Linked DNA regions of Homo sapiens: regions 1 and 2 are each linked to region 3. The links come from fine-mapping of genetic effects on gene expression. A gene starts in region 3. Each other region holds a variant in brackets. All regions are shown on one strand. Distances are between the middles of the regions.

Evidence for each region.
Region 1: its variant is fine-mapped to the expression of ACKR1 in whole blood (GTEx, PIP 0.96).
Region 2: its variant is fine-mapped to the expression of ACKR1 in whole blood (GTEx, PIP above 0.99).

Annotation. Positions count from the first base shown.
Region 1 is chr1:158,457,924-158,469,227 of GRCh38, reverse strand. It overlaps OR10K1 (olfactory receptor family 10 subfamily K member 1), which reads right to left and starts at 7,394. Exons shown (of 2, transcript NM_001004473.2): 1 at 7,324-7,394; 2 at 1,770-3,822. The coding sequence starts at 3,666. The coding sequence ends at 2,725. It overlaps LOC107985212 (a long non-coding RNA gene), which reads left to right and starts at 6,457. Exons shown (of 2, transcript XR_001738256.3): 1 at 6,457-7,057; 2 at 7,478-9,641. The variant C/G (reference allele first, on the strand shown) is at 6,175.
Region 2 is chr1:160,196,432-160,207,735 of GRCh38, reverse strand. It overlaps CASQ1 (calsequestrin 1), which reads right to left. Exons shown (of 11, transcript NM_001231.5): 7 at 10,122-10,167; 8 at 9,005-9,059; 9 at 8,683-8,783; 10 at 7,811-7,885; 11 at 5,850-6,491. The coding sequence ends at 6,360. It overlaps PEA15-AS1 (PEA15 antisense RNA 1), which reads left to right. Exons shown (of 5, transcript NR_123725.1): 3 at 1,360-2,398; 4 at 2,602-2,665; 5 at 5,220-5,537. PEA15 (proliferation and apoptosis adaptor protein 15) reads right to left here and starts at 2,352. Exons shown (of 4, transcript NM_003768.5): 1 at 2,214-2,352. RefSeq lists a silencer at 2,237-2,496 and enhancers at 2,647-2,696, 3,047-3,146. The variant C/T (reference allele first, on the strand shown) is at 6,727.
Region 3 is chr1:159,201,313-159,209,320 of GRCh38, reverse strand. It overlaps ACKR1 (atypical chemokine receptor 1 (Duffy blood group)), which reads right to left and starts at 4,446. Exons shown (of 2, transcript NM_002036.4): 1 at 4,341-4,446; 2 at 2,821-3,860. The coding sequence starts at 4,361. The coding sequence ends at 2,871. It overlaps CADM3 (cell adhesion molecule 3), which reads right to left. Exons shown (of 9, transcript NM_001127173.3): 9 at 6,008-8,008. It overlaps CADM3-AS1 (CADM3 antisense RNA 1), which reads left to right and starts at 6,899. Exons shown (of 4, transcript NR_037870.1): 1 at 6,899-7,071; 2 at 7,700-8,008.

The DNA of each region.
Region 1 (11,304 bases), 740 kb after region 3:
CATTCTACAATACATATGTGTATCAAAATATCATGTTTTTTTTGTATTTTTTTAATTTTTTTATTTTATTATTATTATACTTTAAGTTTTAGGGTACATGTGCACAACGTGCAGGTTTGTTACATATGTATACATGTGCCATGTTGGTGTGCTGCACCCATTAACTCGTCATTTAGCATTAGGTATATCTCCTAATGCTATCCCTCCCCCTCCCCCCACCCCACAACAGTCCCCAGTGTATGATGTTCCCCTTTCTGTGTCCATGTGTTCTCATTGTTCAATTCCCACCTATGAGTGAGAACATGCGGTGTTTGGTTTTTTGTCCTTGCGATAGTTTGCTGAGAATGATGGTTTCCAGTTTCATCCATGTCCCTACAAAGGACATGAACTCATTATTTTTATGGCTGCATAGTATTCCATGGTGTATATGTGCCACATTTTCTTAATCTAGTCTATCGTTGTTGGACATTTAGGTTGGTTCCAAGTCTTTGCTATTGTGAATAGTGCTGCTATAAACATACGTGGGCATGTGTCTTTATAGCAGCATGATTTATAATCCTCTGGGTATATACCCAGTAATGGGATGGCTAGGTCAAATGGTATTTCCAGTTATAGATCCCTGAGGAATCGCCACACTGACTTCCACAATGGTTGAACTAGTTTACAGTCCCACCAACAGTGTAAAAGTGTTCCTATTTCTCCACATCTTCTCCCGCACCTGTTGTTTCCTGACTTTTTAATGATCGCCATTCTAACTGGTGTGAGATGGTATCTCATTGTGGTTTTGATTTGCATTTCTCTGATGGCCAGTGATGAGCATTTTTTCATGTGTTTTCTGGCTGCATAAATGTCTTCTTTTGAGAAGTGTCTGTTCATATCCTTTGCCCACTTTTTGATGGGGTTGTTTGTTTTTTTCTTGTAAATTTGTTTGAGTTCATTGTAGATTCTGGATATTAGCCCTTTGTCTGACAAAAACAAGAAATGGGGAAAGGATTCCCTATTTAATAAATGGTGCTGGGAAAACTGGCTAGCCATATGTAGAAAGCTGAAACTGGATCCCTTCCTTACACCTTATACAAAAATTTATTCCAGATGGATAAAAGACTTACATGTTAGACCTAAAACCATAAAAACCCTAGAAGAAAACCTAGGCAGTACCATTCAGGGCATAGGCATGGGCAAGGCCTTCATGTCTAAACACCAAAGGCAATGGCAACAAAAGCCAAAATTGACAAATGGGATCTAATTAAACTAAAGAGCTTCTGCACAGCAAAAGAAAATACCATCAGAGTGAACAGGCAACCTACAGGATGGGAGAAAATATCATGTTTTACACCATAAATATATATAATTTTGTCAATTGAAAAGCATTTTTAAAACAGCATTTATACAGGCCTTCTTTGCTTGTCTCCAACTCATCCAGTTCTTGCTTCAGGGGTTTTGTACACATTGTTTCTTCTGTCCTAAAGGATATCCCCTTTACCTGAAGACTTTTAATTACCCTTCAGGTTACATGCAGGTTAACTCTCAGTTTCTCTGGGAAACCAACCCTATGCCATTCGATCTAAATTAGGTTTATCTTAGTATTCTCTCCTCTATCGCCTGCATGCACTTTTTCTTCAGAGAATCAACTTAAACTGGTAAGGTATTTTCCCTCATTTTTCTGTTTACTGGGACTATCTTGAACCAGGCAATAAGGCCTATGAGGGCAGAGACCACATTTATTTTGTTCATCACATTTATTTGTTTTAAAACAAGCAAATAGTTGGTTAGCTTCAGAGTGTACAAAAGGCATATAGAAAATGGAGAATAACAAAATTAGAAATGATAATACTGAAGAGGTAGGTGGAAACTAGATGATAGATTCATGACAATGAAGGACCCTTGGCATTATCTTGTAGGGCAAAGGGAGTCACTGGAGGGTTTTCCATGAGTTTTCTGGTCATTCTAGGAATCTAGCCTTCTATTAATATTAACTCAAGCCCTTTGCTTGGAATTACTTGAGATATTTCAGCAAGTAGGCAATGCTAGTAGCTTCCTTGAAGAGAGCAAATTAGTATGGTGTCTCAGGAACAAATGTGGGGGCTAAGACACACTAGTATGTGAAGGACATACATGTGCATCAGGAAGAGAACCATAAAGTGGTTCCACCTCAAACAAAGGAAGAACAAAACAACCCCAAGTAAAGGCCAAGATATTTCAATATGTAGGTTAAGGAAATGAATTGGGGACAAAAAGGACCACCAAGATTTGTAGCAGAATGTGTGGGACCAAAGTTTTCTGTTGTCTTTAGGAAAAGAAAAGTACGGATAGATGGATTTCCTGCTGTTTTCCTTTTTTTTTTCTTTTTTCTTTCTTTTTTTTTTTTTGGATACATCTTTTCTTTCCTGATGTATCCAAGCTCTCTACTTCAAGACACAGCTCTCATCAGTTTAGATGCATCTTTGCTCTCATATTAGTTTTTAAATTAGCAATATTTAAAGCAGTAAAATATAATTAAATTTGTTATGGAACTGTGTGCTCTGTTCCCATATCTGATTAGTCTTGTTAAAGTATCATGGAGAGTAGAAAGCCAGACTGTCTTAACTTCTGTGAGCCTCATTCTTCTCATATGTAAAATGTTCTTATGTTACAGTGGAGCTGGACAATTAAATGAAAAAAAATGTATAAAACACACGTTCTGCCTGGCATGTACTAGGCATTAGTAGTTTAAAAAATAGCTCTTTAACTAAGAGGATAGAAAGTTTGGCCGATTGTTCTTCGTAGGGCTGATTTGAATTCCTTATTTCTCAGACTATAAATCATTGGATTGAACAATGGGGTAAGGATGGTGTATGACACAGATATTAGGGTGTCTTGGCTTGAAGTGTAATTAGTCTTGGGCCTTAAGTAGATGAAAGAGGCACAACTGTAGTGAACAGTTACCACAATGAGATGGGAGGCACAGGTGGAGAAGGTCTTGTATCTTCCAACGGAGGAAGGGATTTTTAGAATGGCAGAGATGATGCGGATGTAGGAGACTAGGATAAGTAGCAGAGGAATGACCAAGGCAAATACACCAAGCATGAATATGACCAGCTGACTGAAGCCGGAGTGCTGAGATGCCAGTTTAAGGACAGGGGAGATGTCACAGAAGAAGTGATGGAGCTGGTTGGAGGAGTGGAAGGGCAGATGAAATACTAGGGAGGTGGTGACCAGGGAGACAGTGAAGCCACAGGCACAGGCAGCAGCCATTAGTCCCATACACACCCCATGTCCCATGAGCACTGAGTAGCGCAGTGGGTTACAGATGGCCATATAGCGATCATAGCCCATGGCTGCCAGCAGGAAGGAGTGAGAGGAGCCAAAGAAGAGGAAGGAAAACATTTGGATGGCACAGCCCAGGAAAGAAATGGTCTTCTTCTGGGACAGCAGGTCAACCAGCATCTTGGGTACAATGACAAAGGTATAGCAAATCTCAGAGCAAGAAAGGATGGCAAGGAAGAAGTACATGGGAGTATGAAGGGCTCTGTCCAGCACAATGGTGGAAATGATGATTGCATTGGTGCCCAGAGTGAACAGGTAGAGGAGCAGGAAGATAACAAAGAGCAGCTGCTGCAGCCTGGCCAGGGATGAGAAGCCGAGGACGACGAACTCTCTCACCACAGTCTTATTGACTTGCTCCATGGAGAGCACTTCTATAAAGGAGAGTCAGGGACAGAGGTAGAAACCAGGATCCAGAAAGGAGAGTGGAAATGTACGGGAAATTTCACACAAAGTTTGCAGGTGGCAGGCATTTCCAGATATTTGATGGAATTCTTCATTCCCCCATTAAAATGCCTGCTAAAAGAAGAATTAGGCAAAATATGCAAAAGAATAACTGATAGCCAGTTTGGAGGCCTTCTCTAATGTGAAGAACAGGTTATCTCTCTGACCAAGGATTAGGAAATTTGCTAATAGTTTTCCTTCTTATGTAACAGAGAGATTGTTGTTTTTGTCACTTACTATAAACCCAAGGCAACTCACTCTCCAAAGTGGAAAACGTTAACTTCAGCTACCTGAAGCTGATCAGAATATAGAACGAAAGAATGAATAATATTCAGACATAATCATGTGGACTTCAGTTTATCCAACCATGAAATGAGAAAGGAGATAAAGTATTCCATGGTCTCTAAGTAAAGATGTGAGCACACATCTATTTACTGGGAACTTTTTATATCTCCAAGGGAACAATAAGAAATACTATTGGAAGTTCCACAAGTTGAAACATTGAGTCAACAGTGAAACAAAAAATAACATTAGCCAGATGTGGTGGCTCACACCTGTAATCCCAGCACTTTGAGAAGCCAAGGTGGGTGGATTGCTTGAGGCCAGGGGTTCAAGACCAGCCTCGGCAACATGGCAAAACCTGGTCTTTACTAAAAGTACAAAAATTAGCCAGGTATGGCAGCACACACCTGTAATCCCAGCTACTCGGGAGGCTGAGGCATGAGATTCACTTGAGCCCGGGAGGCGGAGGTTGCAGTGAGCCAAGATTGTGCCTCTGCACTCCAGACTGGGTGACACAGTGAGAATCTGTCTCAAAAATAAATAAATAAAATAAAATAAAAATAAATAACATTAGTGCATTAGTATAAAGAAAAAAATTCTTCTTTCAGGAAGAGAATAGTCACCAGGGTGGTAAAGAGAGATGACTGACTTTGTGGCATTTTGTAACACACTTCACTTTTCCATGCTGAGCTAACTTGGAGAAACTCAGAGAAATAAGAGTTTTGTAGAAATGACAGAGCTTGCTACAGAGTGTGAGAGAGAATGGCACACTTGGGAATTTTGCCAGTTTCCCCTCTCCTGCTGTAAACCATAGGCTTTGTATCTTTTGTATGTTGTTATGTTAATAAGATTTCTTTTGAACATTCTGCCACTAAAAATATTTTGCAAACTGCCATTACAAATTATTTCTAAAATCATCTTAGGCCTAATTTTTTTCACTGGAACATTTTTCAATAACCCAACCTAATAAGTAAAAAAAGCACTATCTGGATACAAAATCATCCAGTATGTCTTGCTGGTATCCAGTCTTCATTTATATACTTCTGAAGTTACTACATCATTTTGTCTTGGGAAATTATTGGCATCTGCTACCAGAATTTTGTTGCTGTTACTTTTCCATTTTTCTATTCAATAGCAACTTTTTTTGTTTCCTGAATCCTAAGTTAATTCATCAGGCATTCTTGAAATTCATTATATCTATTCATAGAATTTGGAGATGATTTTTTTTCTTTCTTACTTACTAGAAACTGGTCCTAAACTTAGTTAATATAATTACTTATTTTAATAACGTTAGTATAACTATAAAGATATTACTATTGTACATAAACATAGAAAAAGTAAACACAATGTATACCTCCATTGATATTTGTGTATGAGTGTGTGTGTATTAGTTATATGTTTTTATATACAGAAAGGTAAAAGTTTCCCTACATAATACCTCCTTCTGGACAAATGATTTCCTGTCTATTCAAAACAATGAGGAAATCTAAACTTATGGTCATTGCTTAGCCTTGCCTCATTGCTTTCCCAAAAGACTTTCATTTGAATCTTCTTTCAACTAATCAACCTTTAACCGCCACTAGGCCCTCACTTGACTGAATATGATGAATAATGTAAACCATGGAAGCTGGAATTCTCTGATTCTGAAGGAGTACCTGTATCTAACTGATACCAAAGAGAATTGTTTGGATTATTTTTTGCTCAGGCACATGAGGACAGCTGATTCTAGTCCAGTGGATTTTTACATAGTATTAATATAAATCCATAGCCTAAATGAATCATGTGATCGATATAATTGCCTTTTTATGATCTATGGATTCAGCTCCATGGTGCATCTGAGAAGGCAGCCCCCATCTGCTCAAGATGCCATTAGGGACCACCATAGTGTGTTGTCATCTGTACTGATAGAAAGACTTAAGACCAGGAAAATAAAAATTCTCATCCTACAAAATACGTTCAAGCTGTAAAATGAAGATGAAAGATCTTTAGGGTGATGTGAAAAGATTTAGGTTTCAGGTCTAGTCTTCTGTGACTTTAGATGAAGTATATACCTTCAATATTTAGTTTTTTTTTTAATTAAAGGGATAGCATAAACAGTAATGGAATAAACTGTTGGGATATGTGGAAGGCACTGAAGCAGAGGAT[C/G]CCTGAACATTTTACAGAGGAATTTTGACTAAGATAGTATCGGAGTACTATGACCCCTAGGAGCCTTTCTTGCTCAGAGAATCAAAGACTCTCTAGTTAGATGATCTCAAAATCCCCTTAATTGTGATATTTTAGAACGTATGAATAGAATTCAGGCTATGATCCTTGGAGATGCTACTTCAGTGTTTTATTTTTCTAATTCCTCAGATGCTCCACTGGGATTTTATGTAATCTGGATTTAAATAGAAACAAAGTACTTGAGGGTGCTGGGTTCCCCCAAAAGAAGGCAATCTACAGAGTTTTCACGTGTAAAACTTTTAAGAAATATAAATATTTATTTTAAGGAAAACATCAATCAGTTAGCTGAGAGAAATTATGTAAGCAGCTTCAGATAATAAAGGAGTGAAATTTTAACTTCTTAGATACAAATAAAAATCTTTAATTTCTCCAGATTGCCATATTAAAATGGAGTTTAAGTACTAGATTTCAATTATACCTAAAATTATACATCCAGGAGTACACAGCAGAAACAGAAGTAGAAGAGTGAGAGATGAGAGACAAGTGGAGTATCTGTTTCATTTAATCCATGAATCCACCAATGAACAAAAAAGAGAAGTAGAGGAGGAAGGAAGGAAGGAAAGAAGGAAGGGAGGAAGGAAGTAAGGAAGAAAGGAAGGAAGGAAGGAAAAGAAAAAAGAAAATAAAATCTAGCTATGAGTAAGAATGACCCAATATGATCTTCAAGAACAATTCAGATAATTTTTTTTTTTTTTTCAGAAGGAGTCTCACTCTGTTTCCCAGGCTGGAATGCAATGGCACGGTCTCGGCTCACTGCAACTTCTGCCTCCCAGGTTCAAGAAATTCTCCTGCCTCAGCCTCCCAGGTAGCTGGGATTACAGGTGCACGCAACCATGCCTGGCTAATTTTTTTATTTTTAGTAGAGACGGGGTTTCATCATGTTGGCCAGGTTGGTCTCAAACTCCTGACCTCAGGTGATTCACCCATCTTGTCCTCTCAAAGTGTTGGGATTGCAGGGGTGAGCCACTACACCCAGCCAAATTCTGAGAATTATAAAGGCCATTCCCAGTCACTCTTAGTAAGTTCAGTGAAAGGTAGCCTCTGATTCTCCTTTTTAACTCTGCTACTTACCAGAAATGCCATCACTGATCTCCATGGGAGGCACAGAAAGAGGCTTTCTCAAACACTACCCATCATTCAAGTCCAGTCCCCACAAATCCCCAAGCTAGGTCAATGTTCCCACTGCTCGGTAAGTACTTACATTGCTCTCTCCCTTCTAATTTAGAGAGAAGCAGCTATTCAGTATTTGGCAGTCTCCTGACAAGTAGCACCACTGCCACAAATCAGAGCCTGAGGAAATAACAGCAAATGAGAGGGAAGCTGCCTTGAGATAGAAACTCTCATCTGAATCAACAGAGCTAGCCTCCTCCATCTATCAGGACTCCCAGCTTCTCCAGATAAGTCACCATCTTCAGAAGTTCTGATGACCAACGTGGGATGTGGTTATTAGAAGCATGTACTGTAAACACTGGACTCCTGAGGTTAGATCTACTGCACTGGAGCTGTTGTCTTGGGGTTAATTAGGAGTCAAGTTCATTTTGGAAAAAATAATGTCACCAGTTTCTCAAAGGTGGCCTCAGTTGAGGAGCCTGGGGAGTTGAAGTCATGAGCATAATTAGCCCATGTATGCTTTGAAAGTTGAGTCCATTTGAAAGTTGTGATGGATTCTGAAGGAGAGCCCACCACAATTAAGACTGTAATGCAACAGACCAAGTGGAAAATTTTTACTGAATTTTAATCAGAAGACTGATGTATTTGTCCAATGACACTCAACTTCAGTGTTTCTAAGAATCAAAAGAGGGTTGAATGATGTTTTCCAGGGCGCTGCCCCTAGAAACTCTAATTAAGAACATTGAGATGTTTTGCAAAAACCTAAAATTTTAGTAAGTATACTAAATCTAGTTGAGCTCTGTCATCAAACAGTGTGTTATCTTATTAATGCATTTTACCAGAATGACAAAATAATATAGAGTTGTGAATTTTGTTCAAGCTAATCTATAAAGCCAATATAATTCCAACCCAAATCCATGCATAAATTTTGAAGTCACCCTGACAATCAGATTTCCAAAATTTTCATGAAATTATAAAACAATTTTGTAAAGGGCAAGTAATATAGGCCCTCACTCTTCCTAGTAAAAAAAAACTATGCTTTAGTAATAAAAAAGAGCATGCTATTGGTGCAAGAAGAAATAAGTAGTATAGAGACAGAAAGGAGAGCTCAGAAATTAATGTATGTGTATTTGAGAACTTGGTCTTTGGCAGAAGTGACCTCACAAGTCAGTGAGAGAATTATAATTATGTACTAAATAATACTGGGAAGCCTCTGTGTATTCCACCGCTCAGAAGGAGGTGACCTGGTGGAATATGAAACGGTTTACTTGAGGCTCAGTTACTGCACTGGCTCTGTGCCAATACCTAGTACAGCCCCATGTGTCTGCCCAAAGCAGAATATACTCTGAACCAGCAGCCAAAGGATTGTGTTCATTCTCTACTAACAAGAATGTATAAGTCTGAGAACCGACGTTTAAGGGGAGATGAAATGAATCCTTCTGTTATTACTCCTAATGACTTATATGCATAAGTTTGAGCTTTGTGGATTAGAAGTGTTATTTCACAAAGGAGTGTTACTTCCACCAGAAAACACAAAAATGGTGATTGAGATGGCCCCTTGGCCACTTCAGTCTACTTTGTCCTTCTGTACCAGTAATCTACAGACAGAAATGAATCCTGTTTTTTAACGAAAAATAGGGTGTTGCCGCTACACTACCAAGGCAGAAAATAGTATGTCTAGAATCTAGATGTTCTAGGGCATTTTTTATTACTTCATATATAAAGGCAAAATTTAATAGAAGACTAAAACAACCTAATTTAGGCAGTCACTAATAGTTCAAGCCCTTCAGAAATGTTGGGGTATTAGGTGAGTTCAAAAGAATATAAACAGGTGACATTTTAAAAAGTCATAAGCATCAGTGATAGTCATGTTTACTTACAGAAACAAGGATTGCAGTAGCTGTTTTATTTTACTGCTTGCTTTATTATGTATATATGTGTATGTTGATCATTTTCCCATCTTGTCTTAACCTACCAGTATATATAAGGTGTGTTGATGTTACAAAACATTATAATTCCATCTACAAAGAAAAGGCTATCAAATAATTTATTGTTTCATTTTTAGAGATAAATGTGGGTACCTCTTTATGTGAGATGTATTTTCGTTATATTCGTTATTACTGTTTGGAAATTTAAACATCAACAGAAGGATGTGTATGGATGGTGAATATCTAAAAGGGAAACCTGTGCTGACTATATTTTACTGATATTTAGTATCATACTTACACTTCTAAGTTCTCTGTACCACAATGTAGGAATAAAAATTCTGGAAATCCTGATGTCTGTTTTCCATATCACCTTGCCAAAAGGGTTTTACAAAAAAGGAGCATTCATGAAATATGTGGATGCAGAAGGGGGAAGCCAGTTGTTTGGGGCAGGGTGATATGCCAGCACTTATCAGATGATAGATGTGGACTTTAGCCCTTCACGTTCAGATTTTCTGAGAATCATCCATCAGTACTGAAGCAGCCAAGATCATCTGTGAGGGCTTCCTGTGATCCTTGCAATTCGGAAAATCAAGAGCAGCTTTCCTGACATTTATTCTCCTAATCTTCCAATACATACATAAGCCTCTATTTTCTCTATCAAACCTATTATTTTAAATTCATAGACTCTCAAAAAGTAACAATATGTAAACCTACCTCAATCTTTGCAATAGATGCTAGAGTTGTGATTTTTCTTGTCCATAGTTGGAATAACTTTATAAATGCCATTTTATTAATTTTTATAAATTTCTCAGAGTTTGGATAAATGAAATAGTTTTTTGAAAAATTGTGCATTACCCACAAAATGAAATTGCTGATTGAAAATCTATTCTTATTTCAAATTTTAATATGCATTGTGTTGGCATATAATCTCCACAAAGGTTATAAAACTTATACTTTCATTAACAATATGTGAAGATGCCAATTTCTCCATAATGTATATGATGTTACTTTTAATCTTTTAAATTCTAGCCAAGATGAAATATAAAAATCATACCGTGCTCCCATTTACATTTCTTTGATTAATAGTAGAGGTAAGCACTTTAAAAAAAATTATCAGACACTGTTATCCAACTTTTGAAAATTATCTATTTATTTTCCTATTACATTTTTTCTTTATAGATTTGAGAGACTACTTGGTTCAATAATTGTGTTTGACCTTTGAATTAAAAGTGTTCCACCTTGTCTTTTATTTTTATTAGAAAACTTTTAATACTAACAATTAACCTTATAGAGGATTAACTTACATCATATAAAATGTTCCCAACTTAAATGTACAGTTTGGTACATTTAAGCAATACTAAGCAACAACACCCCAATCAAATTACAAAGAATTTCTACAATGCCAGAAATCTCCCCCTCCAGCCCTGTGGTCAATTCTACCCAGATTTGGTCCCAGAAACACTCCAATCAAATTACAGAGCATTCCTACAATGCCAGAACTCTCCCCCTCCCCACTTGTGGTCAGTTCTACTCAGTCTTGGTCCCAGAAAAACAGTAATCTGTTTTCTGTTAATATGGTTTGGCCTTTTCCAGAATTTCATGTAAATTGAATCATACAGTATGATAACTTTTGTGTCTAGTTTCTTTCTCTTAGCATATTTCTGAGATTCACTCATGTTGTGTCATTTGTCAGTTCATTCTTTTTATTGCTTAATAGTATTCCATTTTATGAATACACTGCAATTTATTCAGTGAAGGATAAATCGAACTGTTGAAAGATACTTGGATTCTTTCTCGTTGGAGGCTAATAGGAATAAAACTGTTATGAACATAAGTTTCCCAGTCATTGTATAGACATATATGTTCATTTATCTTTGGTACATACCTAGGAGTGGAGTGACTCTGCCACATCATAGGTATAAATTTAGCTATTTATAAACCTCCAAGCTGTTTTTCAAAGAAGTTGTATCATAATTCAATCCTACCAACAATGTTGTAAAAATTCCAGTGGTTT
Region 2 (11,304 bases), 1.0 Mb before region 3:
TCAATTAATTTCTTCTTTAAGCTTTTTATCCAGCTTTGTGGGGGAGGAGGGGGTTGTCTTTACTCCTGTAACAAGGAAATTGAGGGTTCTGAGGCTCCAGGGTCAGCCTGGAAGTGACGAGAGGCAGGACATCTGGGCCCTAAAATGTTCACTTCAGTCCAAGAAGCAAAATGGATTACCTTTGGGCATGGGGACAAGGATTAGCCTTCAGCCCTTGGTCTAGAAAGAGCCAGACCCAAGATGGGGCATCAGGAGATAGCTGGCACTGGATCAGGCAGAGCAGAGGAGGGCCGGCTGATGGCGAGGAGGGGAATGGGGCCTAGGACTCTCCCCAGCCCATCTCTGTTTCCACTCTTCTGGTGTGGCACTCCCTGCTTCTATTTCTGTCTCTCTCCATCTCTCTCACTCTTTGTCATGCATTTCCTTTCTACTTCATCTTTCAGTCTCTCTTTTCCTCCTTTCTATAGGCTTTCACCCCTTCTAGCATTTCCTACTCACCTATCCAACTTAGTGGTAGCCATGAATACTTAGGACTCCTGAGATCTGTGCTTCACTGTCCCCATCTGAATATTCGGAGCTGCAATTAGGAAGGGGTGAGCATCCCTGCTACAAAAGACAGAGTAAGTTTGGTCGGAGTGGCTTGGAGATTCAGTGGTTGGCTGCCTACCAGCTGGTGAAGATATCCATCATGACATTGTGCGTGAGGATCTGTGTGAGAGAGTGAGGCGCTCTGTGATTCTGTGACCCTCTTCATGCATGATAATACATCCACACATGATGGGCACGGAATTGAGGAAGTAGGCAACCAGGGAAGCCTGCAGCCTAGGGCATCACTGGCAATTTCCCCAATGGAGTATTTAACCACAAAGGGAAGAGCAATTAAAGCTAATCGCTCTGACAGCCTGGGGCCCAGACACACGTACCACTTTCCCTAACTCCCAGTGGTCTCCCCCAACCTTCATCCTCCCTAATTTGTTTAGTGCACTCTCAAACACTGTTTGCACTTCTCTGACCATCTCTTTCTCTCACTTCCTCCCTCTCCCTGGTTCCCTGACTATCTCTAGACCTCTCTGGAGATGTCTGTCTGCTTCTCACACACATTCCTCTCATTCTCTCTCTGACTTGGGTTCCATTCTTGGCTGACTCATACCCATTCTTTTTCCTCTCCGTTTCTTCCACCCCCTCCTCCTCCATCCCTTGGCCACTCTTACCCAGAAACTAGCCACTCCCAGCACGCTAAGCCCTAACTGGACCCAGGAAGAGAAGCCACCAGAAGCCCCTACCCTCATTAGTCCGCAAAATCCTGTCTCCTTGTGTTAGAGGAATGAGACCAAGATTTTCTCCCATCTTTCCCCACAGTTTTAAAGAGGAACAATCTGAAACCATGGGGCTGGGAAAAGCTGCCAGAAAATCAGGATGGATTTGGGGACAGTGGCCCTTTCTGTCCACTCAGCTGTCCTGTCGGACTGATGACTTGGAGCCCGCAGTTCAGAAGACTCCTCATGGGATGCCCCACCCCACAGAGTGGGGGTGTGGTGGGCGGCCGGATGCGTAGTCCAGGGACGTTTGTGATTTGGAGTGTGCTAGACTATGTGTATAAGTCACATGGGTGTGTGTCACTGTGTGTGCTGGCGTGCCTTATAGGTGTGCGTGTTTCCCTGTCAGTTTTGACACGGATTATATGAAATTAATAAGGGTTTTTACGTTAGATATACATCACTTCTCTACACCCCCAGCTCCTCCTTCCCTCTGGACAAGCTTTCCGCCAAGCCCACCTCTTCCCCAGGTGCAGTGAGCTGGGGGTGAGGGCACATGGTACCAGCCGCCCGCGGAACCGAGACAGGGCTGGGCCGGGAGACCGCCAGCGGAGGCGAGTCCGAAGCCTGAGCGGGGAGGGAGGGGCGGGCGCTGGCCTGGCCGAGCCGGCTGGGCGGGAAGCAGGCTGCATCCTAATCCACAGGCCCCGGTCCGACTCCCAAACTGCCGTTCAGCGTGGAACGGGCTGGCCGGAGCCACGCCGCCTCCAGCACACGCTCGGCGCTCGGGACGCACCGACCGAGGGACGGACCCCGTGAGGCCTGACACAAAGTGGACTCGTCCGGGGTCCCCACACTCCCCGTCTGGCCCCCGGTGTCCCAGATCGTTGCCCCTCCAAGCCTAGACCCCGAAATCTGCCCCTTCCCCGCGACATGTCTCCTCTCCGCCCCTCTCACCGCCTCTGGAGCTGAGCGCTCAGGGCGCGGGCACTCCTGAGTCCCCGGTTCCTAAGCAGCGTCCGGAACCTCCTCCTCGGCTCCCGCCGCCGCCGCCGCCGCTTCTGCCGCCGCCGCCGCCTCTTCCGCCCGCGGAGCCGGAGCCCGAGCCCAGCGCCGCTCACTCCACCCGGCTGGCCGGTGATGTCAGAGCCGGGGAGGGGCGGGGGGCGGGGAATGGCGGGAGGAGGGGGAGGGATGGAGAGGCAGGAGGGGGCGGGGGACCGAGGGGCTGGGGTTCTGGAAGACTCCTAGGATGGGGGACAGAATTGGGCGGAGGGCTGGAGCGGAGACGGTCTCTTCCCCCTGAACTGCGAAACAATTCTCATATTTAATTCTTACCCAGTAGGGCACCCTCCTCCCCTTTTGACCTTTGGATGACCACGGTGCCTAGGACCCCTGGGAGGCACAGAGTAGGTTTGGTTTAGGGGGTTGGAAAGCCTTTGGGGGCTGGATTCTCTTAGCTGCTGGCTTTAATATTTGTAAAAACTTCTTGCCTTGCCTTAAGGGTCAGGGGCGCAGTGGAAAATGACTGATCAGACTTATCCACATTGGGAGTGAGGGGTTGGGGCCACATGGGGACTTGAGGAGCCCTGGATCTTCTCTTTCCAGGATGATGCCTTCAGGCCCTCTTGCGTGCCTCTCACCTTTCCCAAACATGCCCCACTCCTGCCTTCCCCCTACCATGATGTAATTTTATTTTCTGGGGAGAAAAAGAGCAGCAGTGAGCTCAGCATGCAAATATAGACAACTTGCAAAGCCACACTTAGCTCCATCTCCTAGCTCTGCCCCTCTGCCCAGGCCCAATGTGGCAGCTCTCACTTCCCCTCTACCCCAGGGACTTTCCTCCCCCAGATTCTCAGCCAGACTGAAAAGAGGAAAGGAAGAATTGGAGAAGCATCTGTTTTCACCCCCATCTCTATAGCCTAAGGGGTCTTGCCTCAGCTCTGGGCAGGGTTTGGCCCTGGAAAGAAGTCTGACCCTGGGTAGGTCCTTCCTGCCAGGAACTCCAGCAGGCCCAGGTTGGGGGATTCCCCTCAGTGTTTGTGCCACTTCCAGGATCACCCATCTCATCTCAGTTCCTACCTGGCAGAGACTCCTCCAGAAACCTCAAACGAGCCCCTCCTTTCTTGGGTCTACACCATTCCTAGAAGAGGCCCAAGTTCCTGCTGCTCTGGGTTTCATAGCATTTCTCTGCTGTTTCCTCTCCCCAGCATTCCCTGTCACACACTAATCATTTGCCTTTGTATATATCATGTTTGCTCTGTGTTGTAGGGACAAAAACTATTTCGTTGACCCATCTTTGAGACTCATGTAGTTTCTAAGTGAAAGGCTCAGGTCTGGAGGCAACAAGACACAGGGGCCTTGGGCTGCGTGCTAGTTCCACCCATTCCTTGGGCAAGTTATGCCTGAAAGCCTTAGTGTCCTCACCGGTCAGATCAGGGTGCCAATGTCTATTTCTGAGGGTTCTTCTGAGATTCAGAAATAGTAAGTCTCTAGGGACTGGCACAGATGGGTGCTTAAAAAATAGGAGCTATTATTTAGACCGGGGCCTTCCACTGACCTATGCTAGACAGTAAGCTCCACAATATTATTGTAAGACTAGCTTAGTGCCCATACTACTTATTAAACATTTATTAAATAGCTACAAGTTGGAATGAATACATAGTTTCTGCTTTCTACACCCCTGCCACATTCTCTAGGAACACTTCCTGGACTTGTCTGTGGAGAGTGAAAATATATCTAATCTCAGGTCTCATCTTTCCGTACTTAGAAATCCTCTAAGTCTCTCAGCAACAACTTTACACCTGATCCATGAAAAATATAATGTTGGCTTGGCGTGGTGGCTCACGCCTGTAATCCCAGCACTTTGGGAGGCTGAGGCAGGTGGATCACCTGAGGTCAGGAGTTCAAGACTAGCCTGACCAACATGGTGAAACCCCATCTCTACTAAAACTACAAAAAAGTTAGCTGAGTGTGGTGGTGGGCACCTGTAGTCCCAGTTACCTGGGAGGCTGAGATAGGAGAATCTCTTGAACCCGGGAGTCGGAGGTTGCAGTGAACCGAGATCTCACCACTGCACTCCAACCTGGCAACAGAGTGAGACTCCATCTCAAAAAAAAAAAAAAAAAAGAAAAAAATATATATATATACACACACATATATATGTATATGTATATATATATAATGTTTATTATTTATGGGCATCATCTCAAAAATATATATATAATGTTTATTATTTATGGGCTTGTTTAGCTATTTGTATATATTATATATATAAAATGTTTATTGTTCATGGGCATCATCTCAAAACTATATATGTATATGTTTATTATTTATGGGCTTATTTAGCTATTTGGCCCTCCCATCCCCAACTCCCTAAACTCCTTTTTGCTTACCCCAGCCTGGGCCTATTCTGGAAAGACTGTGGGTCCTTCTTGCCAAGACCTCCAGCAGGCCCAGGTCTGGGAGATCCCCATTGTATACAATATCTCCTCTCCATTCCCATGGCCACCACTTGGGTCCATGTTCTCCCAACATCACTCCAATTATTATAACAGTCACTGATTATGGGTTGGGCCCCTTACCTCTGGCATCTCCATCATCTCCCCTCCCCATCCTGCTTATCGCTACCAGATTAAATTTTGCCCTGCCTCCTCGGCTGGCAGGATTCAATTCAAACAGCTCTACAACCCAGCCCCATTATGCTTACCCAACTTCATGGCCACAACTTGATTTTTCTTCTTGTCTCTCTGGTCTCTGTGCCCCCAATATGACAAACATATCCTGCCAGTACTTGATGTTTTCCACTGACTGAAATGTCTCCTCCTCAGCTCCTTTGTCTCCAACCAAATCCCATTCTTCAATTTAAGGCCTAGTAAAGGCTTACTTCCTTTGTGAAGTCATCAAGCCCACTCTGATCTCTCTTCTGAGTTCATTCTGTTCTTTCCTTTGTTCTTCCTTTAGGAAACATTTACTAGGGACAACTTTTGAGTGTCAGACCCTGTGGACACAAAGAAAAAGCTTGGGTTCCTGCCTTCAAGGGGCTCACAGTTGAGTGGGGAAGACAGACACGTAAATGAAGAACAATAACAGACTGTGCTGAGTACTGGAATGGAAGTGCAGCAGGAACTCAGAAGAGGTCATCACTGGAGGGGCCACCTCTGGGAAGGCTTCACCAAGGAAGTATAATTGGAGCTCTGTCTTGATGTTCAAATAAGAGCTGCAGAGAGGGTGCTATCGAGCAGCACATAATCACTTAATTACATATTGCTTTGTATTCTTCTTCGATTGTTTAGTATGCTTGTCTTGACTTCTCCGTGAGGCTAATCAGCTCAAGATCAGGGACAGGCCTAGCACTCTCTGTTCTCCCAGAGCCTAACAGTGGCCCTGGACAAACACCATGTGTTCAGAAAAGGCTTGTTGACTTGAAGCAGATTAACAATCCAGGCTTCTCTGGGAAAGCTGCCTGGAGGAACCCCAGTCCCCACTATAAGAGTCCCCCAGCTCATCCCTAGCAAGGCACCCACATCTGAATTCCCCATCAGTGGCCACCTCCTCCTGCCATAGGGGTGAGACTTCACCAAAATACACTTGTTCATGCTGCCCCAGATGTCTTTATTGAGGCCTCTCATTTGACCCAAATACATTAACAAGTGATTGCTGAGATACAGTCCCAAACACAGTATTCTCCCTTCCTTCTGGCCAAGGACAGGACAGTCAGAAAGATACAGGATTAGAGAGAGTGGGGGAAAGCTGTGCATAGATGGAGGGAACAGAACAGAGATGGGGCCCATATATATGGCTAGAGGAGAATCACAAGAAAGAGTATGGAGAGTGATGGAAGAGACACATAATAGATACAAGTAAGTTATGGGATAAGAAACAGAAGTCAGATAAGAGAGAGCTGGCCTGGTGTCTAGGGAAAAGTAGCTCATTTGCTCATCAAATGAGGGGGATCAGTGTCTCAGCACCCAGCATATAGACCCCAGTTAGCTCTATGGCAGAGAATAACCTAGTCTCCCTGGAGGAACTCAGGGAAGGACAAGGGAAGGCAGGAGAGAGCATGAAAAGACCAGTGGGGCTGAAAGATGGTTGCCATAGCAACTAGTCATCATCATCATCGTCATCGTCCTCTGTGTTGATCTCGCCCTCCAGGACATCCTCCAGCCAGTCCTCCAGCTCCTCAGCAGAAGGCAGGTCCTCCTCATCGTCCATTTCCATCCATACGCTATCCGCCTAGGAGATGGCACAGGCAGGGACGGAAGCTAAGTCCAACCCGGGTCTTAGGATCTGTCTTCCCACTCACTGGACTCTGTACATCCTTCCCTACATTCTCAGTCCCTTCCTTTCATCTGCCAAAGGCCAGGGAAACTGTCCAGGTGAAGGTATGGGTTATGGGTTAGAATAGTGACAGGTGAGAGTGGGAAGAAAAGTTGGATTGGCAAATAGACCTTCTCCCTTCAATCTGTCT[C/T]CCGTGCTCTTGCCACACTGAACTTCCCTATTATGCCTTTGGTGCAAAACCACTGGTAGCTCTTCATGGCTTATAAGAATAAAGTTAGCAACTCTTCGGCATTCAGGACATTTCTTTCTTTCTTTCTTTTCTAAAAGAGACATGGTCTCACTCTATTGCCCGGGCTGAAGCGCAGAGGGGCAGTCATGGCTCACTGCAGCCTTGAACACCTGGCCTCAAGTGATTCTCCCACCTTGGCCTCCCAAAATGCTGGGATTACAGGCCTGAGCCACTACCCTGGCCCCAGGGCTTTTCATAACCTGCTTTTCTAGTACCATTCTCAGTGATCTCTAGACTCTCAACCATAAAAATCCACCTGCCTTTTCCGGGAACCTGATATTCATTTTCCTGTTTTTAACTTTTGATCTTGCTTTTTCCTCAGTTTGGAAATGACTTCCCTGAATCATCACTTGTTGAAATCGTATACATTGTAGAATCTCCATTTTGAATATCACTTTTTCTTAAACTTTTCTCTGATTCTGTCAAGCAGAAATCAATGTGATCCTGTGTCTTATTTGTATCGTTATTATAAAGTTTATCAGATCTGGCCTTGTAGTTAATGGAACACTTGCCTCTCTAATTAGTCTGAGAATTCTATGAAAGCAGAGACTGTGGCTCATTCAGTTCAACTTAGCAGTTTTGAAGCACCTACTGTGTGTGCATAAGAAGACTTCTGCCCTGAACAAGCTCAAAAATCTACTGGAAGAGACACACATAATACATAAATAGCCATTTAAATGTCATGTTCTCAATGGCTATTGAGCCCTGGGAGTGCCAGGGAGGGAATGATTTTAAATGGGAGATCTGGAAAGACTTCACAGAGGAGAAAGAATTTGAACTGGGCCTTGAAGGATGAGCCACTGATTCCAACATGTGGGACAGGGCCACATTCAGATCCTAAGTCTCCCCCTCCATCCAGCCACTAGACTGGGCATGTCTGCGTCCTGTGAGAAGGGCCCAACTCCTAGTTAGCAGAGAGGAGGAGAGCTAGCTATGCTAGGAAGTAGAGTCGGGGGTCAACCCGGGATGAGGACAGGAAACTCACATCAGTAACATTGACGACTCCTATTTGTGGGGCTGACAAGTCGATGTCAAACGTCTTCTCCCAGTATGGGACCAGCTGTAGAGAGATCAAAATACAGCAACTTAATAGATACTAGGGAGCACATGAATCCAGGAGGATGAGTGTGAGGGTCAGCCCAGGGATGGAGAGGGGACAGTGCGAACTGGCAGTGGATGGGGACAGGTCCACCTGTGAGGGCATCAAGGCAAGGGTAGAACTAAACAACAAAAGAGGAGAAATCCTAAAGGGAGAGAATCGGGAGGGTCAGCTGGGTGCACTGGCCCCTCTTTTCTGAGGAAAACTGGATAGGAAACCCTGTTCTGATCCTGGATCAGATCCTTGTGTTCAAGGTCAAGTCACTTCTCTCTGGCCCTCAGATCTTACATTTCTAAAATAAGGCAAGTATACCTGGTAAGTGCCAATGTTTCTCACGTTTCTCTTTGTTCTTTCAGTTACTCATTCAACAGCGAGTGCTAGGTGTTGGGAATGTAGCTGAGAACAAAATCATCTCCTGAAACAGGGAATCTCTGTGCTATGATTCTATGATTGAGTGTGTATACCCATGTGCAGGACTATTGTGCCTCACAACATTGGTTTTCTTTAGGAGTCAGCCCTAGCACCTGAGCTACCCATCCAGCCTCTGCTCTGGGAATGTGTGTGATGTCCGTCCTGTTTCCCCTTGCTCAGGATGCCCTCCATGCCAACAGTGCCCTTAAGCATGCAACACGCATACCCTCCCAGGGCCCCCCAGCTAGGAGGTGGGGATGGGACCTCTGAAACAAAGCCCTCACTAAGAAGATGTCACAGTCCAAGGCCCCACCTTAAGATAGCAGTGCCTGAGCTGTGCCTCTTACCAGGGGGAAGTCATCAGGGTCAATCCAGATGATGCTAAGATCTGGGTTTTCAGTGTTATCTTGGGCCACAGCCTTGAGAGTCTCTAAGAACTCGAAACCATCTTGGAGGGAACACAAGTACAAGGTATGAGGTGTGTAGAGAGGAAAGGGACCCAGGTGAAACAGGAGTGCAGAGCTACCTCCCTGCTCCCCAAGCTTCACATGTCTAGCCCTAGGCTGTTTGCAAACTCCCAGGAAAGCCTCCTAGTGAGGCCCATGCTCCAATAAACACACCCACCTCCCCCTGCCTTCCCTCCAGTCCAACCCGGTATTCCTCCCTCACCAGGATCAGCTTCCTCTGCGAAGGCCACAATGTGGATTCCATCCATATCATCCTCCTGTCAGGGGGTAAGAAGGAGAACAGGGTTTTGGAGAAGACCTTACTATACTCCCTGAAGTTGAGGAGCCCAGAACAGATCCTAGATGTTCATTGAACCTCAATTTTGTGGAAATCCAGCTTCAGGACCAGATATATTCTTTCGTTTTTTGGGGTTTGTTTTTTTTTGTTTTTGAGACAGAGTTTCACTCTGTCCCCCAGGGTAGAGTGCAATGGCGCGATCTCGGCTCACTGCAACCTCCGCCTCCCGGGTTCAAGCGATTCTCCTGCCTCAGCCTCCTGAGTAGCTGGGATTACAGCCATGCGCCACCACACCTGGCTAATTTTGTATTTTTAGTACAACATTGTTTCACCTTGTTGATCGGGCTGGTCTCAAACTCCTGACCTCAGATGATCTGCCTGCCTCAGCCTCCCAAAGTGCTGGGATTACAGGCGTGAGCCACTGCGCCTGGCCATATATATTCTTGTGATGGTGACCTTTTTCCAAGTGACACTCCTTTCAGCTCCAAGGCCCCACACTTCCTCTGATAATCCCTTTATCCCCAGGCTTGAGGCTCTTCCCTTGTCATCTTCAATTATGTCTGTCTCCCATTTCCTCACACATTCTTCAGTGTAGAAATCTTTCAGTTGCTGCTAGTGCACTGTTTTTTCTTTTTTCTTTTTTTTTGAGACGGAGTCTCACTCTGTCCCCCAGGCTGGTGTGCAGTGGCGGATCACTGCAAGCTCCGCCTCCTGGGTTCAAGCCATTCTCCTGCCTCAGCCTCCCAAGTAGCTGGGACTACAGGCGCCCGCCACCACACCCTGCTATTTTTTTTGTATTTTCAGTAGAGATGGGGTTTCACTGTGTTAGCCAGGATGGTCTCGATCTCCTGACCTCGTGATCCACCCACCTTGGCCTCCCAAAGTGCTGGGATTACAGGCATGAGCCACCACACCCAGCTGGTCAGTGCACTGTTTTTTCTAAAAATGGGCCTGAGGAGCAGTAGGGTGGGGTTTTTCTAGGACTTGAGTCTTCTGGCACCCATGCTTCCCTGAGGGCTTGACCCTGGCCAGGGGCACTCACCCAGGTCTCATACATACTCTCCGGCTTCAGTTTCCTCAGGGTTGATCTAGAAGAGACAGACAGAGTGTCATTACTCAGTGGGTTAGAAGGATGCCCCCTCCAGAGGGTCCTGTAGCAAAGGCTGCCTCTAGGTCAGGCCCAGGGCACAGACAGCTTGTAGCCTACAACAAAGCCATCTGGCAAGGCCTCAACTCTGGGCACCAGGCCCGGCTCATTGCATGGTTAAAGCGGTGGGAGAGGGGAGGGTGGGCAAAGGGACTGGAAGAGAGACTGGGGGAGAAAGGCAAGAACTGGACATCAGGATATTCATTAATTTATTCATTCATTCACTCACTCACTATGATTGAGTGCCCGATATGTTCTAAGCACTATGCTAGGTGCTGGGTACATACAGTTGAACCAGGCAAGCATGTTCCTGCCTTGATGAAGGGAGCCAGTAGTATGGGAGAGTAAGTACTGTATATACTGCAAGGGAGCTTGCAGTGATCCACCACTGCACGCTAGCCTGGGGGACAGAGTGATTGGATATTTCCAGCTGTGGACTACTATGAAGGAAGGGAATTATGTGTGAGTGCCCGGCAGGATTATTCAACCTCAGCACTATTGCCATTTGGAGCCAGATAATTCTTTGTAGTAGGGGGCTGTCCTGCGCACTGTAGAATGTTTAGCAGTATCCCTGGGCTCTAGCCACTAAATACTAGTAGCACTCTGCACAACCAAAAATGTGTCTAGACATTGCCAAACATCCTTTGGAGGGCAAAAACCTATGCCCACCTCGCCACGCCTTCCCACCTTGTAGAGAACCATTGGTGTACGATATTGTATTAGAAAGAACATGGGGCCAGGCGCAGTGGCTCATGCCTGTAATCCCAGCACTTTGGGAGACCGAGGCAGGCGCATCACTTGAGGTCAGGAGTTTGAGACCAGCCAGGCCAACGTGGTGAAACCCCATCTCTACTAAAAATACAAAAATTAGCCAGGTGTGGTGGCGTGCCTGTAATTCCAGCTACCTGGGAGGCTGAGGAAGGAGAATCGCTTGAACCTGGGAGGCGGAGGCTGCAGTGAGCCAAGATGGCGCCACTGTGCTCCAGCCTAGGGGATAGAGTAAGACTCGGTCTCGGAAGAAAAAAAAAAAAAGAAGAAGAAGAAAAAAAGAACAAACATGGGACACATCAGGGTTAAA
Region 3 (8,008 bases):
GATTCTCCTTGTGCCCAGACGGCGGGCTGCTGTTGTCAGAATAATTAGATAGCATACGATGGTTTTCATGCAAATCTCTGGCAATTAGAGTTGGCGATGAATTGGGTTTGAAATCCCAGTGAAGTTCTCAATCAGAATTCCTCTGAGGGAGGAAGGTGGTGATGGGGTTGGGGGATAGGGAAATAGGAATGGAAAAAGGGTGTGAGGACCAAGTATTTGTTTTCTAAATCCTAAGGGAGGGGCCTCAGCTTGGAATAAATGAACTATGAGCGTCAATGTGATGTTCAAACTTCCCTTGAATAATAGATCTCTCTCCTTTAGAAAGCAAAGCAAACTGACCTTCCTCAGGGTCCTGTGTTTTCCCAAGAGCTTGCTTCCCTGGCTCTCATCTTTCTGAGAGGATTTTTTTCTTTAGCTAGGATGCCCAATATCTCATACACAGCTAAAGTCCCTGCCAACCCTAAGATTAAATTCTTAAGGGCTTTAAGGAGACAGGATTTGTATTCCTGAAGGGTTGCAGAAAAGATGCCAGACTCAGACCAATTTTAGAGTGGTTGATGGCATGCAGTGGGTTAAATGCATGGGGTGGCAGGTCCCCAAGAAAGCTTTAAAGAAATGACTGAGGTCCGGGTTAGACTTAAGGAGGAGCTCTCCAAGTGCTGCCTAGGTAATGGCAGGGAAAGGGCAGCCCAAAAGGCCTGGAGCAATCCCGGTGGGGGTGGGGATGAGGAGGATGTAGCAGGGGGCGGGGGTAGGGCACTGTCTCCAGCCCACCCTAACCTCTTAGCAGCTTCGGGCTTCTGCAGCTGCCTTTCCCTTGTGAAAGCCATGAGAGCTGCCAAGCTATTACCCAGGAGTCTGGGGTTCTCTCTAACTGGACTGACTGACCAGGGATTTCTATCCAGAGGCACAGGGTTGGGGGCAGATAAGACAAGCCTACTGGTCTTAAATTAAGCCTCCCTTGCATCAGGTTGACACTGGAAGATTCAGGGAGTCAAAAACGCCCTCTCCTCCCCCTCAACTAGGTCAGCTTCCAAATCAGTACCTTGTAAGGGAGGACAGCAACATCTGGTAGAATTGCAAGAGTGGTCAAGGACGGGAGGGGGATATTGAGAGAAGCCTGGAAAAAAAAAAGCGGGGGAAAAAATACTAGAACACATTCATGAACTGTGGTTGGAAACCAGAGCATAATTTAGGTTTGTAAATTATTTCCTTTCTCTTCATTTTCTCTCCCTTCCTTTCTGTTTCAGAATGTCTCCCGCGTCTCAATCGGTCCCTAAATCCCGCCTTTCAATTGAGGACGAACCAATCAGGAGCTAACCTGGTGGTTGCTAAGAGACAGGAGGTGGGAGATTTAGAGGCCTTGTCGTGGCACCCACCCAGGAAAATTCCCTAAGCCTTTTGCACCCTCCTGCCTAAGCTATTCTAACTCATCTCTGCACCTCTCCCGCACTCGCCTACTATTCCCAAGCCCAGAGAGTCAAGCAGAAACATTTTAGTAAAGAAACCAGGTATAGCATATCTTTGGAAAATGGTAAGATGGTAATTGGGTTCAAACTGATAGAACGTATCTGCTCAAGTTTCCCCAGCCTTTAGTTGGGTTAGAGGTAGGAACTAACTGTTTTGTAGCCTCTTGGGTAGAGGGTGAATTTGCTCTTGGTGGTAAAAGCTGTGCCCCTGATGAGGAGGGGTTTCTGTCCTTCCAGCCATCTAAACTTGGGTAGGTAGAGACTGAGAAAAATCTCAAAGGTCATGATTAAGCAGCCAGAGAATCAGGGGTTGGGAAAAAGGTGCCCAGGGGATTGGGGTATTGTGTGGAAGGTGGAAGGAAAGATGTATGTGGGAAATAAAGGTTTATTTCAAAAGCTGAGATTCTGAAAGGGAAATTCGGGGAATTCCAAGCAGAAGATGAATCAAATCAGGGCCTCCCCCTTCAAGTTTCTCCACCCTTCACAACTTCTTGATCTTTTCTTCCCTCCACACATCCTACACAGAAAAGACTAGGCTTAAAAACCAGGGTAAAGAAAACTCATTTGGGTAAGGAGTGAGTCATAAATCCCGATTCTATATCCTGTGAACAGGGATGAGTGCAGAATTGAGTGGGGGTTTGGGTCCTGAGAAAAGTCAGTGCACACGCACAGGTGTGCGCAGTTCAGGTGCTGACAGAGATGCAAGCTCATGGGTGGACATATGTTTTTACATGCATACATCTAACATAAAGGTAGATTCTAACAGATCGAGAAACAGATGTGTACACACACACACACACACACACGCACGCACATTCAGGTCATGCTGAGGAACCTGGGAGAGATGACTCCCAGGAAGTGGCTTTTTAAATTACCTTGATATGTTCCCTGAACTGAGTAACATCCCCTGGGATGCTTCTTTCACCTTCCCCACCACTGTCCTAATCACTAAACAAAGCCAGAGAGGAGACAGAAGACAGAGGCTGGGCAGGTTGGACAGGGGGAGGTGGTATTGCTCTGGGCTTTGTCATCACTCTTCACTGTTTATCTCTCAGTTTGAGTTCCTATTCCATTTGCTTCCCAGAACAGCTTTTTTTCCAGCTAAGCCATCCCTTCTGTTTTTTTTGGTTTAATGACTCCCCTCATGCTCTGGTTCCTCTTCTCTTCTCCCTTGAGATGGCCGTGACCCCACACCTCAAGAGAACATCTGTGTACCCTGAGGGTATTTATTCATCATTCACCTTCTTCCCAAGCCAGCTATAGAAGCAGACACTGGCAAGAAAGTCTGACATAAAAATGTCTCTCTCTCCATTCTCCTTCTTCTCCCCAGACAAAATAAGAAACCACCCGCTTCACAAAGGCAGTGTAGACTTTAATTCAGGTTGACAGGTGGGAAGAGAACTAGGATTTGCTTCCAAGGGTGTCCAGATGAGAAGACCATCCTTCAGGGAGGGGCAGAGAGGGCAAGAGGGTGCGGGTGGCCTGGTGGCAGAATAGGGCGAGGAGCAGGGGCGTAGCCACACAGTGCAAAATTGCCAGGGCTTCTGCCAGGTTCAGCAGCAGGTCCAGAGCCTGCTGGGCCAGACATGTTGACAACAGCAACAGCTTGGACCTCACCAGGAAATCCAGTCCTAGAACCACCCCATGAGGCCACCAGAAAATAAACCAGGCCCACAGGATATTCATCCAGGGGCCTGGCCCCATACCCAATGCCTTCTTCAGCCCCTTGGCTCCAAACAAACCCAATGGCAACAAGACAAAGATGGCAAGACAGGCTACAGTGTGTGTGGCCTGCAAAGCCTTCAGCTCCGTGCTGTATATCAGGGTGCAGAGTCCACCAGAAGCACCACTGGCCAGGGTGACAGGCAGTGTCAGTAGGGCAGCCACTCCCCAAATTCCCACAGTGAGCCCCAGGGTGAGGCCTGGGACCTGGCCTGCACCCAGTCTGTGGCCCAGGGAGGCATGGCACCCTAGCAGCAAAGCCTGGGCAAAGGCTGAGCCATACCAGACACAGTAGCCCAGGCTACACAGGGCAGAGCTGCGAGTGCTACCTAGCCCTGGGGCCAAGACGGGCACCACAATGCTGAAGAGGGCACTGCCCACAGCCAGCTGTGCCAGGACAGGCCAGCCAGGGCAGAGCTGCCAGCGGAAGAGAGGTCTGAAAAGCATGAAGAGGACAGTGCTGCTAGCTAGGATACCCAGGACACTGGTGAGGATGAAGAAGGGCAGTGCAGAGTCATCCAGCAGGTTACAGGAGTGGCAGGGGGCAGCTGCTTCCAGGTTGGCACCATAGTCTCCATCTGGGAAGGAATCATTCACACCATAGGAAGAATTCCATACATCTTCGAAGTCCAGCTGACTTGAGTTCTCAGTTGAGGGGGAGAGCTCCGCCTGGAGGACATACCCAGAGGAGGCCATCAGAGTTACACCGGAAGAGTCTCCTGGGAATTGAGGGGCAGGTGGGAGGGGAGGACAGAGAGGAAGGTCGGGTGGGAGAACAAGGTCTCTGCAGGAGTCAGATGCAGTGCGGACAGTGGAAAAGGACAAAGCAGGGAGCCTGAAGAGCCGGAGCAGGAACAGTCCTGGGGAAGCCAGGGCAGCTGGGGCTGGAGGAGCAGTGCAAGGTCAGAAGGAAAAGGCACCAAGAGACCAGGATGGAACTGACTCAAAGGCAAAGGGAGGGACACAAGAGGGAGCTAGGAGGCTAGCATAGGAAGGAGAGAAGGAAAAAGACTTTGAAGGAAGAGGAAAAAAGCAGGAAGGGAGAAAAGATGAGGAGGAAAAGGAAGAGATATAAAGACTGAGGGGCAAACAGCAGGGGAAATGAGGGGCATAGGGATAAGGGACTCTGGGGCCTGGCCCCATACTCACCCTGTGCAGACAGTTCCCCATGGCACCGTTTGGTTCAGGCCCGCAGACAGAAGGGCTGGGACGGCTGTCAGCGCCTGTGCTTCCAAGATAAGAGCCAAGGACTAATGAGGGCCATCAGGTTCTGGGCAGGGACAGGGGGCATCAGGAAGCCTTACCCCACGCCCACTGCCTGCACAAGCCTCAGGCCTATGGGGGTCACTGGCCTTGGGTCTTCCTGTTTTGAGGTTGGATTTGGCTGGTTGGGACTACACTCAGGAAAAAGGTGGGGACCAGAAAGTGGGCATTTTACCGAAGTGGAAAGGGAGATTGAGAAAACAGGGGGCTTTCCAGCAAGTAGAGATTTTACCGAAGTGGAAAGGGAGATTGAGAAAACAGGGGGCTTTCCAGCAAGGAGAGATTCTTCAAGCACAAGGAAGGAAGAGAGGGGGGCTGGGTGACTTGTGAGGCAGAGATAAGGGAGGTGCTGGGAAATTGGAGTGGAAGGGCGGCTGACTCTCACTGCTCCTCCATCCCCTTGAACTGGATCCAAGGAAAGGCAGTTCAAAAGCCATGTGTTTGGGAGAAAGGTGGTGGTGGTCAACTCTGTCCCAACTGAGGGGTGTGTGCACGTGGGCGTGAGCTCTTTGTGTGTACTGAACTCTGTGTACGTTTGCTGTGTATCATTGTGCACATATCTGTATGTGAGGGGCTTGGCGGGTGTCTGGGTGTGTCTAGCTATCTCTAGGTCTGGGTGTTTCAGTGTGAGAGTGGGAGGGTTGGGGTGGCTGTCGAGGCTGCATAATGAAGCCATTTCAGGGAGCTATTGGGTGTTTGCCTAGCCACCTATGGGCTCAGTGCATGCCTCTTGCATATGAAGTGGAATACATGGTCTGACAAGTTAAAGTAGGCTCTAGGGGACAATGGGACAGCATATTTTAAAATGGGACCATTGCCCACAGGGTGATTTCTATTCATATTTCTACTGGGGGACATAAAGTCTCTGGAACTGTTTCATTGGCCAGGCATCTTAGCAATATGTAAAGTTTCTCACTGAGGGGCAGAGCTGGCCAGCAGAGAGAAAGGGCATCTACCCTGCAGGCAGGCCGATTCTCCCAAGCACATTTCACTTTTTTAGTGGCTTCTTCCCCCTCCCTCCCCTCCTCAGCTGTTTCCCCAGGATCGTCACTGTTTCATCACCCCTCTCTGCTTTTATTTCCTCAGCTAGGGAGACATAGTGGGGACTTTGGGAGCGGTGAGCCATGGCGTGTCCAAGTCAGAACAATGAGATAGAAAGGGCTGGTTAGGGGACGCTGTTTCATTTGTCCAAAACAGCATCGGCTGCTTCATCTCCAGTGTTGTTAAGGACCTTCTGTCCCATTCATGTAGGGCTTCCTAGGGGGCCAAGCACCTCAGACCTAAGGTGCAGAAGGATGGGTACCTCGTAGAGATTTCCCCCTTTTCTCCCAAGACACTAGCTCAAGTTTCAGGTTCAACATGAAGGGGCTGGAAAGTGAATTTGGTCTGGTGGTGTCTGGTGATGCTCTGCAGGGTGGGGTTGATGGCATCTCCATCGCCGTCTTAACATTCTCCAGCAATGCCTGGCAGAGGGTGGGGGGAAGCAGTCAGATGCCCCCCAAGACACTCTCTGGAAAGGAAGGGCTTAGCAAAAGGAAGTGAACACACTTCTCTCCCTTGTAGAGTTATATTGTTGCTGTACATAGATATTCTTGAGAGTGGCCTGGCAAGGGACACACCACCTTTTGAGGCACCAGGCACCAGGTGCAAGGGGTATGGGAAGAAGACCCTCACATACACACATCCCAGCAGCAGCAAGAGGACCAGAAAGGAGGCAGCTGAATGACACGGATAATCCAGATATATTGAGGGTGACCCCTCTGAGATTAGCACAGGAGAGTTAGAAAGATTATAAAGATACACGGTCCCCTCCCTGCTCCCTTCCCCCACCCCCCCACCCCTGGACAGACACACACAGCACAACAGCCCCTCTCCCTCCCACCCCCCCGTACAAATATGGCTTCTGTGTAATATGGACAGAGTGGTTCAGCTTGAAGAGGAAAAGTCATTTTCCCAAAAGCGGGTGCTGGGAGACAAGAAGCTCAACAGGCCTGGGGCCCCAGGGCTCTCTTGCTGTTGTAAGAGGAGTAGGCCCCGGCTTAGGTGAGGGGCTGCCTGTGGTGCCCAAGGCCCTAACCAGCGGCTGGAAGATTCACAACTGTATTACCTGAACTGAAGGGGGTGGGCAGGCCTGCTAGATTGCAGCTGCCCCTTTTTGCATGCCCATTGTCAGACCAGGGAGGAAAAGCTGGGGGAGGGTGGGAGCGATGCCAAGGGCATCCTGGATCTGAGGCGGGGCAGTCCAGCCAGGACAGGGAGGACCAGGAACCTCATCTCCACAGCAACCAGCTGGGGCCACGAGAAGGAAGACAGGAAATCAAAAGGAAGGGTGGGGACCCAGCCTTCAACTCACTGGGTACAGACTATGGGAAAAAATAGGTGGTGGTAGGTCTTTCCAGGGTCAACGCCAAGGAGAGGCCTGAGAGGTGCATAGCAAAGGCTGTGGCACTGACTCCATGGCTCAGAGGAGGGAAATCCAGGGAAGGGCTGAATGCTCTGTGTTTAAGGGAGAGATAGAATGGACAGCTGGGCAAACACACACCCGGGGACTCCTTTCTCCAAGACCGATGGGCATTGGGGGTGGCAGAGGAAATACCAGCATGGAACAACATCCCAGGTGAGGTGTGAACCCTGACTAGGAATACCCCATTCCCAAAGCCTCCCCAACATGTCCCACAGCCCTGTCCACTTGCCCAGGACCCCTGGCTCTTAGCCCTCCTCCTCAGTTCCTCGCTCTGCCTCTCACTCACTCACACACATGCACACACACACACACACATGCACACATGCATACACACCACACACATGCACACAGTTCACATTATTCCCTTAGTTTGGGCAGGAAACAGCTCACTGCAGTGAAGCTCCTTTTAGTAGTTTTGTTGTTATGTCTGCCTGGCTGCTGAGGGAGGAAGGATGAAGGGCTGGCGTTGGGACCAGGAAGGGGGCACAGGGTGGCCGGGAAGGGAGAAGTAGTTGCTGAGCAATGCCATGGGAGGAGTGGTTGCCGTGCAACAATCCAGAGTCTTGGGTAAGAGTGAGGGGCCCCTCAGGGGGGGAAGCAGAGGCAGTTCAGGCCCCAGAGCAGTGCCTCTCCCACTGCTGCTGGAGCAAGGAGGGGCAGCCACACTCTGCTATCTCCAAGGGCAGTTCCTATGGAAAGGGCCCGGCTTTGTTCATTTCCGGGGGGAATGGGGTGAGAGTCCACCTCCATCCTTCCTCTCCAAATCTACTCTTCCTTGCAGGGACCCGCGTCCTCCCCAGGTTACAGTCCTGGGTCCCTGCATGGCTGCATGTTGTCTGCAGGCCACATCTCCTCAGGACTCCCGCACTCATCACTTTCCCATTGCTATGGAAGAGAGGTGTCAAGGTGGCACCTGCCTCCCTGTCCGTAGTGCTCAGGTGTGTGGCTACCAGAGGAAAAGCCACTCCCAACCTTTGCCGACAACCATCCCGTTTCTGGGTTCCTGGAGAAGTCTGGGAAGCTGCTCTGTTGTAGAGGCTGAAAGGAGGGCTGGTGAGAGCCCCCAGCTGAAACCAGCCCTGCCCCTTAC